Regions from separate parts of the Homo sapiens genome. Here all the other regions are reported to be linked to region 3. Evidence: microRNA targets listed by miRTarBase, many of them from high-throughput screens and not tested one by one. Region 3 holds a microRNA gene; each other region holds the end of a gene's coding sequence.

Region 1 (3,000 bases), not on the chromosome of region 3:
CTCCCTTCCAGCGAAGTGGTGAAATTTGGCCGAAATTCCAACATCTGTCATTATACTTTTCAGGACAAACAGGTTTCCCGAGTTCAGTTTTCTCTGCAGCTGTTTAAAAAATTCAACAGCTCAGTTCTCTCCTTTGAAATAAAAAATATGAGTAAAAAGACCAATCTGATCGTGGACAGCAGAGAGCTGGGCTACCTAAATAAAATGGACCTGCCATACAGGTGCATGGTCAGATTCGGAGAGTATCAGTTTCTGATGGAGAAGGAAGATGGCGAGTCATTGGAATTTTTTGAGACTCAATTTATTTTATCTCCAAGATCACTCTTGCAAGAAAACAACTGGCCACCACACAGGCCCATACCGGAGTATGGCACTTATTCGCTCTGCTCCTCCCAAAGCAGTTCTCCGACAGAAATGGATGAAAATGAGTCATGAACACAGAAAGTCTAAGAGGAGAAATATGATGGATGAAGAGCTCTGTAGATGCTGTATAGACACTAAATAAGAGTTGATTAGGGTAGTATATTATAGTCATCTGTTATGCTGTGAAATTTGGAATTCAGTATTATCATTTTGAAGTCTGTAAATTGTGTTAGTCATTAACTTAGTCACCTGTTGTATTCTGGATCTACACAAAATTATTTTAACTGCTCTTATTAATCTGTGAGGATTAATATACAAAAAGTATCCTTTGAGATGAAGTCGTGTTCTCAAAATAAGGTTATATTATTTTCTTTTTCTGCTTGATTTTCATCTTGTGTTTTGCTTTGTTTTTGTAAGGAACCATCTCTTGGTTTGGTCACATCAGTTCACAACAGCCATTTGTTTTCAAGGTCAAGGCTCCAGGCAGGTTGTTACTGGTGTTTGCAGCCTGTCAGTACTTGCAGTACTGGAATAGGTTCTAGGCTAGTGTCTGCGCGTCACTGTGGTTTTAGCATGGGAGGACTTATTTGAGAAATACTACCTTACTTTTCTATGATTTCTTTTTACAGAGTTATAGTGTGTTTACTCCTAAGATGACAGTTCTCTTTGTCTATATTCAGCATCTAAGACAAATATTTAAACATTTTAAAGAACCACTGTGTTAAGTTTAGGATTATTTACTTACCAAATTAGAAGTTTGACTTTTATGTGTTATACACAATCTTAAAATTTCACGAATTCACCTTTTTAATAGTATCCATGTACATAATAAAATCAAAGTTTAATTAGCCATTTTCTTTGAATTTTTTTCTAAATAAGGGAAATAACTGTTCTTGGGCCACTTTACAGAGATAAATGTATGTGAATGTTTATGATAAACGCTTAAATATTTCTAAAATATTAACTTCAAAAAAGTCTTTTTCAGTTCTTAAATAAAAATTTATTTATTTAAGATACTTATTCGACTTATCTTAACTAAGGTAGCTATGAATGTTAAGTAGATGAGGTAACCATTCAGTTAAGTTAAATTGTAGCATTGCCAGGTAGTGAGGCTCACTGTACAATTTTCCAGGTAAATGAAATTTCCTGTAGTAAGAGGTCCGTATTTTTGTAACAGCCTTTTAAAAATGCTTTTGGGAACCCTCCAGCCTCTTACCAAAAGAGGCTTTAAACCTCATCTTGATTCAGACTGTCAGTCTATTCCTGGGCAGTAGTATGTGATGTCCAGCACCCTAACCCCGACTCCCCAGCCCTGGGACTATTCCAGTAGAGTGAAATATTTGTCCCTGTACAAAGTGGCCTGAATGACTGTTGGAGTTCCTGTGTCTGGTTTTCCTGTTTATTCCCTGTGATGCCCAGAGTAATGGCCCATCCAAAGATGTCCAGATGTCCATGTGCTAGTCTCCAGAACTTGTAACTGTGTTGTTATGTGGCAAAGGGGAATGAAGGCTGCAGATGGAAGTAAAATAGATTATGCTGGATTATCTGGGTGTGCCCAATTGATCACCGGATCCGTAAAAGTGGAAGAGAGGCAGATCAGGATGTCAGCGTGATGAGGTGTGAGACAGACTTGACTTGCTGTTGCTGGGAGGAAGGGGAGGTCATGAGCCAAGGAATGTGGACAGTCTCTTGAAGCTGGAAAGTGTGCATTGGACATCTGGAAGCCAGAAAAGACAAAGAAATATCCAGAAAGGAACAAAGTCTTGTGGACACCTTGATTTTGGTCCAGTGAGAATATGTTTGACTTGTTAACCTACAAAACTTTATGATGATAAATTTGTGTTGGTCGTAAGCCACTAAATCACAGTAATTTGTTATAGCAGCAGATAGAAAACTAATATACTCCCTTTAATATAAGGTTATCTACTATTGATTCTTTCTAGGATTTTAGCTTCTGGTCTGATGTGGGTTTACAGCCAGATCACCCGGCTTGAATTGCTTACAGTGTGTAGTCTCATGGTAAAGGCGTTCTATGAGTGAAGTGTATATACTTTAATGTGTGTATACTGTCACATTTTGACTATTTTGGAAGACTTTCACCTCTGTTTCTTGTCTTTGAGGCTGATGAATGTGTTTCTAAGTTATAAATTTAATATTAAGGGATTCATGTATTATTGTTATTGAATCCAAACAATGTGTTAAGTAATATTTAGGGCCAGAAAAATCTTGTACAGAATAATGATTTCTCCTAATGTAAATCTTGGAAAGGGTTTTGTTCAACTTGAGAAATATTAAATTTTTTATTCTATTTTCTTTTCTTCAAAGATTGGCAAAGGAGAGAGTGGGTTGCTAAAAGTTTATATTGTTCTCCAAAGAATAGAAACACTTTCCATAGCCCAACTCCGGTAGTAAATAATAATGAACGCTTTAATAATGAAAGAGCAATTGGTTAGTATTAGAATTGTTTTGATTACAAAGTTAGCATCTCTGCCTGAGCTACCCAACCCCAAAGCGGGGTTGTTAGAGGAAAGCTACCATATTTCATAGAACCGAGGAAGGAATGCAGCAGACCTCAGGTGAGATTCGAATGCTCTGGCTCTGACCCTCAATGCATATTGGCTCCATGGCCACCTGTAG
Region 2 (3,000 bases), not on the chromosome of region 3:
TGATCTGCCTGCATTGGCCTCCCAAAGTGTTGGGATTACAGGCATGAGCCACTGTGCCCGACCGTGGGTTTATTTTTAGTATGCGTTCTTGCAATGGTAAGTGGGAATTTATATTTCACCTTAAAAGAGTATAAAATTAACCGTGGTCTTGAAGTAGGTTTTAGGCACTTTTCATACCGAGTTAAGTCAAAACATTCTAAAAGTAAGTATAAAACTAAATAAATAAATGATCTTTAAAGATAATGTGAATCATTAGTCTGATGAAATGGGATTTTGTGACCTTGTAGTAACTGGACTGATATTACTATATCCATTATAAATGTCTAGTAGCTGAATTTCCAATGAGAAACTCCTCTTCTCTCCCCAACAGTGTTAAGAAAGGATTTTCAGTAGCAAATTATTTATCCAAAGCTATTTTCTTTACAATGAAAGATGAAAAATGGTTATAATGATATTCAACTCTAAAGAATTTCAAACTCTATTTATAAATAAATAAAAGTATACCTATAGAGGTAAAATCATTATTATAAGACTCTTCCTGATTTTAGGACTTTGAAAGTTTGTTACTTGGAGGGACAAAATCTATTTGAGGACTCAGACTATGATGGGACCTAGCTCCACCATTAGAAAGCAACATTAAACCAATGTGACAGTAAAAGAAATGCAGGCCATAAACTGTTTTTTTTAAATATCTATATAAAAAATAATGAGCAATTTACAGATCTTTCTCTAATCAGAACCTCAAGTGTATATATAAAGGTACTGTACAATATATAAACATTTACAACCAGTACATCCACATTTTGCTCAGCATTCCAAGGCCACATTGCTAAGTCAGTATATAATCAGTACAGAGTTTACTTAGGAAGAACCACATAGGACAACATATGACATCAAAGTTATGTCACAGTTAACAAAAATAGGATTCGTTATCACTAATTGTGGACTACAGGGAAAATAATAAATAATTTCTGTGGTACTAAATTCTTAGTATTTATCAAGCCTCCTAATTTTGCTCTATTTGAATAGTTACAATAGGTGGGTAAATATAGTTCTGGATGAAAAGGGGATTTCAAAAATCTCACTCTGGGAAGCATGTCTTATCTACAGGGGCTAATTGAGTTGTTGGGTTAAAGAGTTTCACAGTCAGACTCCCAGAGGGAAGGACCTGGACCTAATGTGCTTCACAACAAGATGAACCCAGGTGACAGAACAAGTGTGTTCACACACTCCATAAAATAGTTTTATTCTCAGAAGGTGCCTTTATTTATATAGATGCTACTGAATGCTGCTTCAGGGAACTGAAAAACCTGGATCTATTTTATGGAAGTTGTTAACAGTCTCCAACTTCTAAGAAACATCTTTAACTAGACTTTTAAAAAGAATTCTGAAAATGTGTACAAGTTAAGCAGATGTTTAGTCTCCCTTTCTTGTTTTTAAATAAGAAAGTTAGTTAATGTAGCTAAAAGTTAAATAAGATCCAGTAAGTACTGTCTACACATTTGTCCTCATTTGCTGGGCATACCCTACACAGGTTGTTTTTAAACACCCAAGCTTGTGCACCTGCTACCAGAAGAGTTGGTACTTGGACTGTGAAACTGGTTTCATGATTAAGTCCCTCACATAATCTATATAATATGTTTACTTTTCAAATATGTATTATGTATTAAAGACTAATGACTTTAGTAGTAGGTACAGCCAAAATATCCAGAAATAGTTGGTGGTTTTTCTTCAAAGAGCAATAAACACTATTTCCACATGCTTCTTTATGGTTTCATAATTAAATAACTGAAATAAAAAGGGTGACCTGAGATGCTGTAAGTATACATCGAGGTTGGATAACACAGCAGGAGATGAACTCTATTGCTTAAAGTACTTTCTTATTTCAAACATTCAATTGTAAGTAATATCTTTAACAGTTATTTGAAACAACTTATCCAGCCAAATTAAAATAAAAAGCCATAAGAAAGCATCAATATTGGACTACATTTTTTTTTTCCTTAAAGTAGTGATGTTTGGGGGTTTTATTTTTAAAGTGGGACATCATCAGTAGCTGTTAGAAGAGACAACGGCCATCTTTAACGATGAGTTAACAGTCTCTTCTTCTGCAAGGACTCACATATTTCTCTCTGTAAACATGCAACATGCTATTGAGATCATCAACTTCCAAGCCAAACCTAACTTTTTCATTACTGTGGAAACAGCTGAACAAAAAGGATAAAAACAGACATGATACAGTAGATAACTTGGCACAAATACAAAGTGAGTTGTGACCACATTGTTAATATCAACATATGTCATTTGTTCAGACACTCATGAAGACGAGCTGGGCAGCCTGAGCAGGGCGGGTCAGATGAGCATGTGGATGCAGCTCCTTCCTGAGAGCGAGGGAGGGCAGCCGGCCAGGGGGACAGTTGGTTCTTAGCAATCCTAAAGGCCCTTCATGCAGCCTAGGTAACTTGAGGCTCACATTAACATGTACTTATCTGTTTCAGAATATCTGAAAAAAAAAAAAAGGCTTTTTCTGGAAAAATGCTGCTGTAAGAAAAGATTACAACTTGTTTTTCTTTGTTTTATACTAAAGGTTACTGCCGTTTCTCAGCCATACCAATAGTGCCTGTGACTTTATTTCCACTTGGAACCTTCCAGGGCCCTGGAGTTATCAGTGTTTTCTTAACTGGAGAACTGCTTTCCGGTTTGAACCTTCCAGTCTCTTTGTTTTTGTCAGCTGCCTCTAGTTCTTTCCCTTTGTGATCTTCTGTTTTGTTTGAAACTACCTTCTCTTCAGGTTCTTGCTTCAGCCTCTTTTCTGATAGCTGGACATTTTCTCCTATTTTATCGTTACTAGAACTTGTTTCTCCTGTGGTTACTTTCTTTCCTTTTTCATTTTCAGATACTTCTTTACTTGTAGTCTTATTAGTCATTTTGGATGGAAGAGATTTCTCAACCATTCTTTTGATTTTTTTCTCTGGAGACCTTGTTCTGCTTTTTTCCAACTGA
Region 3 (3,272 bases):
TTGCCTTCATTTATTCACCAGCGACATGCTGGGTCTCACAAGTTTTATGGCAGTAGACGCTGATGTTCGTGCAACTGTAAGAGAGACTCTAAATCATGTGTTTCACGTGGTTTTTGCCCCTTTCCACCTGACTGACTTCAAATAAAAATGTGTTATGTTGTGTCTAGCAAAAGAATAAAGCCACATTTAATCCCCCCATCACCTGGTGCTTTAATGACGAGAAGTCTGTGATGAGAATTATTGGTCCTTCCTGAAGGAATGGTAATTTATGAGGTATTTTCTATGCATGCCAGGTAATGAACTCACCCTTTAATGCATACATTCCTTACTCTCAGAGGTAGGTATTGCTCTCTCCAGGTTGCAGAGGAGGAAATTGAGCCTTAGCTAGCTTACCTTAGCTAGCTTGCCCAAGGTCACCCACGTCAGTCTGGTTCTCAATGCCCTTGATCATGACACTATCAATCCAATCAGGATGAGGACCCACCCTTTTAATTGACACAAGTCCCAGGAGGATATTCTAACTTCCTTTATCTAAGTGGGCAATGATGATCTTTGTTTTTGTCTAGTATTTTTATGCTCTTGTCATCTTGTCACAAGCAAACTATGATGGCAGAAGGTTTTGCATAATATGGAACATGTGGGAACGATATCAATGTTTTCTATTGTTTTATAGATTTTGGATATTATCAAGTTCTGACCCCACTTATGGTCAATCCAGATATTTTTTAACCAGCCAGAGAGAAGGAGGTTGGGGCAGGAACAGACTAGCAAAAAGAAGGTAGCATTGTTATTCCTAAAAATAGCTAACATGTTAGTGCTTTTATGGGACCTGCAACTGTGTTGTTATCCCATTTAATAGATAAATAACTTAGGATGAGGCACATGCTACCTACTGAAGGACACAGGGACAGTGAGAGTAGACTACTGCCCTGAAGGAATACACCCCTGGTGAGACAGTCAGGAGGAATGTGGATTTGGTTCTGCTACACTGCCAGTGTTGGTCGTTATGGAAAGTCATAAAAAGAAAAACAAGGCAAAAACTTTATGCTCATCTCTGCCCTTCCCAACCTCCTTGAAATGATCAGAGGCCTCTCTCGGAGTTCCTAACACATAGTCTGAGAAACAATGTCCAAGGCAAATTATGGTTCCTTGGTTTGCAATGTACAAAAAAATCAGCAAAATACTTAAAATCTTTGCATATATGCATATGTACCTTGAAAGCATTTAGAAATTGGCAGTATGAATTTTAAAAATGTGAGTTACAAATCTATAAGCTAAAAGGTGTACTTATTTTGTGGCTGAAGCCTACTGGTTGGGTGATTAATAATTAAAGTTTATTGCATTGGAAATCACTTAAATTATAATTAGAGGAGAAATTTACCAGCCTGCTTTTGCCCATCTTAGTTCCTTTAGATTAAAAAGAAAACCAAAAACAAACAACCCAGTCATACTCATTAAGATAATCACAAAAATAATTGACAAGACAGTCTTCTAAAATAAATCATGCCAAGTATGATGGCGTCAGCCACATTTTGTCTGGGAAGAGATCTCATAGGAACCCAGACCTTGGTTATTGGTAGTTATGCATGTCCTTGCCTGAGAGATCCACTGGCAATTTTGTGGCAGTTCATGGTATGACAGATAAAAACCTAAGGGCCCTGATCCAAGTGCAGGGTCTGAGTTTTTACAAAATTACCTTCACAGACTCCCTTGCTGTTTCTTCTCCAGCCGTAGCAGCAGGCCAGTTTAGTTCCATAGTGACAGACCCCAGGCTGACGTGCCGATGCTAACAACCCGTGATGCCTTGCACTGCAGATAAAGAACTACATGTTAGTATTGAGAAAATAGAAAAGACAACAGAAACTCTTCCCTACTACTAAAAGAACCAGAGATGTCAATTACCTGGTTAATTTCAACGAACCCGCAGTAAGTGCTAAATTAGATTTTGAAAACCTGAATTTTGGGGTTGCCAGCCTTCCTCAATAATTAGTTTCAACCATTTCCTTCTTCCCCACGGTTAAAAGAATCTATAAAACTAGGGCACATGAAGATGTCCAAAGTATATGTTTTTGAACCTTGTAGAGTGTCACTTTTCAGATCTGCTCTGTATACGCACAGCAACTATCCAGTTCTTTGTCTATTTCAGTCACTTTCTAATCCTGTGGCTTTGTCCCAGACCAGAGCTCTGCACTTTTATCCCACTGGCACCTGGGAACCATTGAATAGACTGGAATCAACATACACTATAGATGATTAAGAGTTGGAAGGGCTCGTTCAGCAAAGCCCTCTTATGTTACAGAGGAGGAAACTCCAGTCCAATGGAGTGGAGTCACATCCCCAGCAGAGCTGGGTGTTGGGAATTCTAGCCCAGGGCTCGTTCCCATTGACCTCCTGGAAACCCAATTTGCTAAACTGCTTAATTTTAGAGCAGAGATCGGCAAACATTTTCTGTAAAAAGCCAGATGGTAAGTATTTTAGGCTTTGTAGGGCCATAAGATATCTGTCCAAGTACAAAAGCAGCCATAGGCAATAGTAAACAGATGCGCATGACTGTGTTCCAATAAAACTTTATTTATGGACACTGTAATTTGAATAGCATATAATTTTCCTGTGTCATGATATGGTATTCTCCTTTTGCTCCATCTTCTAACATTTAAAAATGTAAAAACTGTTCTTCGCTCATGGGCTGTTTATAAAGAGGGGATCACCTAGCTTTGGCCAGCAGGCTGTAGCTTGCCTGATCTAGATGCCTGAAAAAGGTGAGCCCCCTGTCCCCCACCAAGTGCCCCCAAGTAGTGCCGCCATGGATGAAGCTCACTGCATGTTTACCTACTTACTGTCCTGGTATTGGACAGGGTTGCTACCAGACTTTGAAGGAAAATACTTGCATTGTATGTTTAGTGGAGGGCTGTGATTATTTCCTTACACATATTAAATACACTGTAAAAATGTTTCCTGGGCTCTTTAACAGACAAAGGAATGCACATTTTACCATGTGCTTTCTGCTACAGAACTGAACTTCATGCAAGTTAATAATATCTAAGTCAAGGTCGGGAAGTTAAACAACCTTGTAGATTTCCCTCAAGATCTGCCTCTCCCACAAATGTGATTACTCAGTTAAGAGCTATAAAGATATGGTCTGAGACATTTCATTTACTGAGAGCACCAAATGGGAGGATGATTTTAACATTTACTTTTTCTTGAAGAGAACTTTTTTTCATTTTTTAATGGAATTAATTTTAGGGATTCATAAGTCACTCAAACATTTAGAA

Evidence for each region. The annotated mature microRNA hsa-miR-6086 reads GGAGGUUGGGAAGGGCAGAG and lies in region 3 at 1,053-1,072, opposite strand. An mRNA with a match to its seed (bases 2 to 7 or 8) in the 3' UTR can be bound and repressed. Matches are read on the target gene's strand: a 7mer-m8 pairs with bases 2 to 8, a 7mer-A1 pairs with bases 2 to 7 and ends in A, and an 8mer does both.
Region 1: the mRNA of TIFA is a reported target of hsa-miR-6086. Seed matches in the 3' UTR shown: 7mer-A1 at 1,594-1,600.
Region 2: the mRNA of MAGI3 is a reported target of hsa-miR-6086. Seed matches in the 3' UTR shown: 7mer-m8 at 1,831-1,837.

What each region holds. Positions count from the first base shown.
Region 1 is chr4:112,275,297-112,278,296 of GRCh38, reverse strand. TIFA (TRAF interacting protein with forkhead associated domain) reads left to right here. Exons shown (of 2, transcript NM_052864.3): 2 at 1-3,000. The coding sequence ends at 435. Among named protein-coding and RNA genes, the nearest start is that of TIFA, 9.1 kb to the left of the region's middle.
Region 2 is chr1:113,683,600-113,686,599 of GRCh38, reverse strand. It overlaps MAGI3 (membrane associated guanylate kinase, WW and PDZ domain containing 3), which reads right to left. Exons shown (of 21, transcript NM_001142782.2): 21 at 677-3,000. The coding sequence ends at 2,586. Among named protein-coding and RNA genes, the nearest start is that of PHTF1, 74 kb to the left of the region's middle.
Region 3 is chrX:13,588,093-13,591,364 of GRCh38, reverse strand. MIR6086 (microRNA 6086) reads right to left here and starts at 1,073; the gene lies at 1,019-1,073. EGFL6 (EGF like domain multiple 6) reads right to left here. Exons shown (of 12, transcript NM_015507.4): 2 at 1,697-1,809.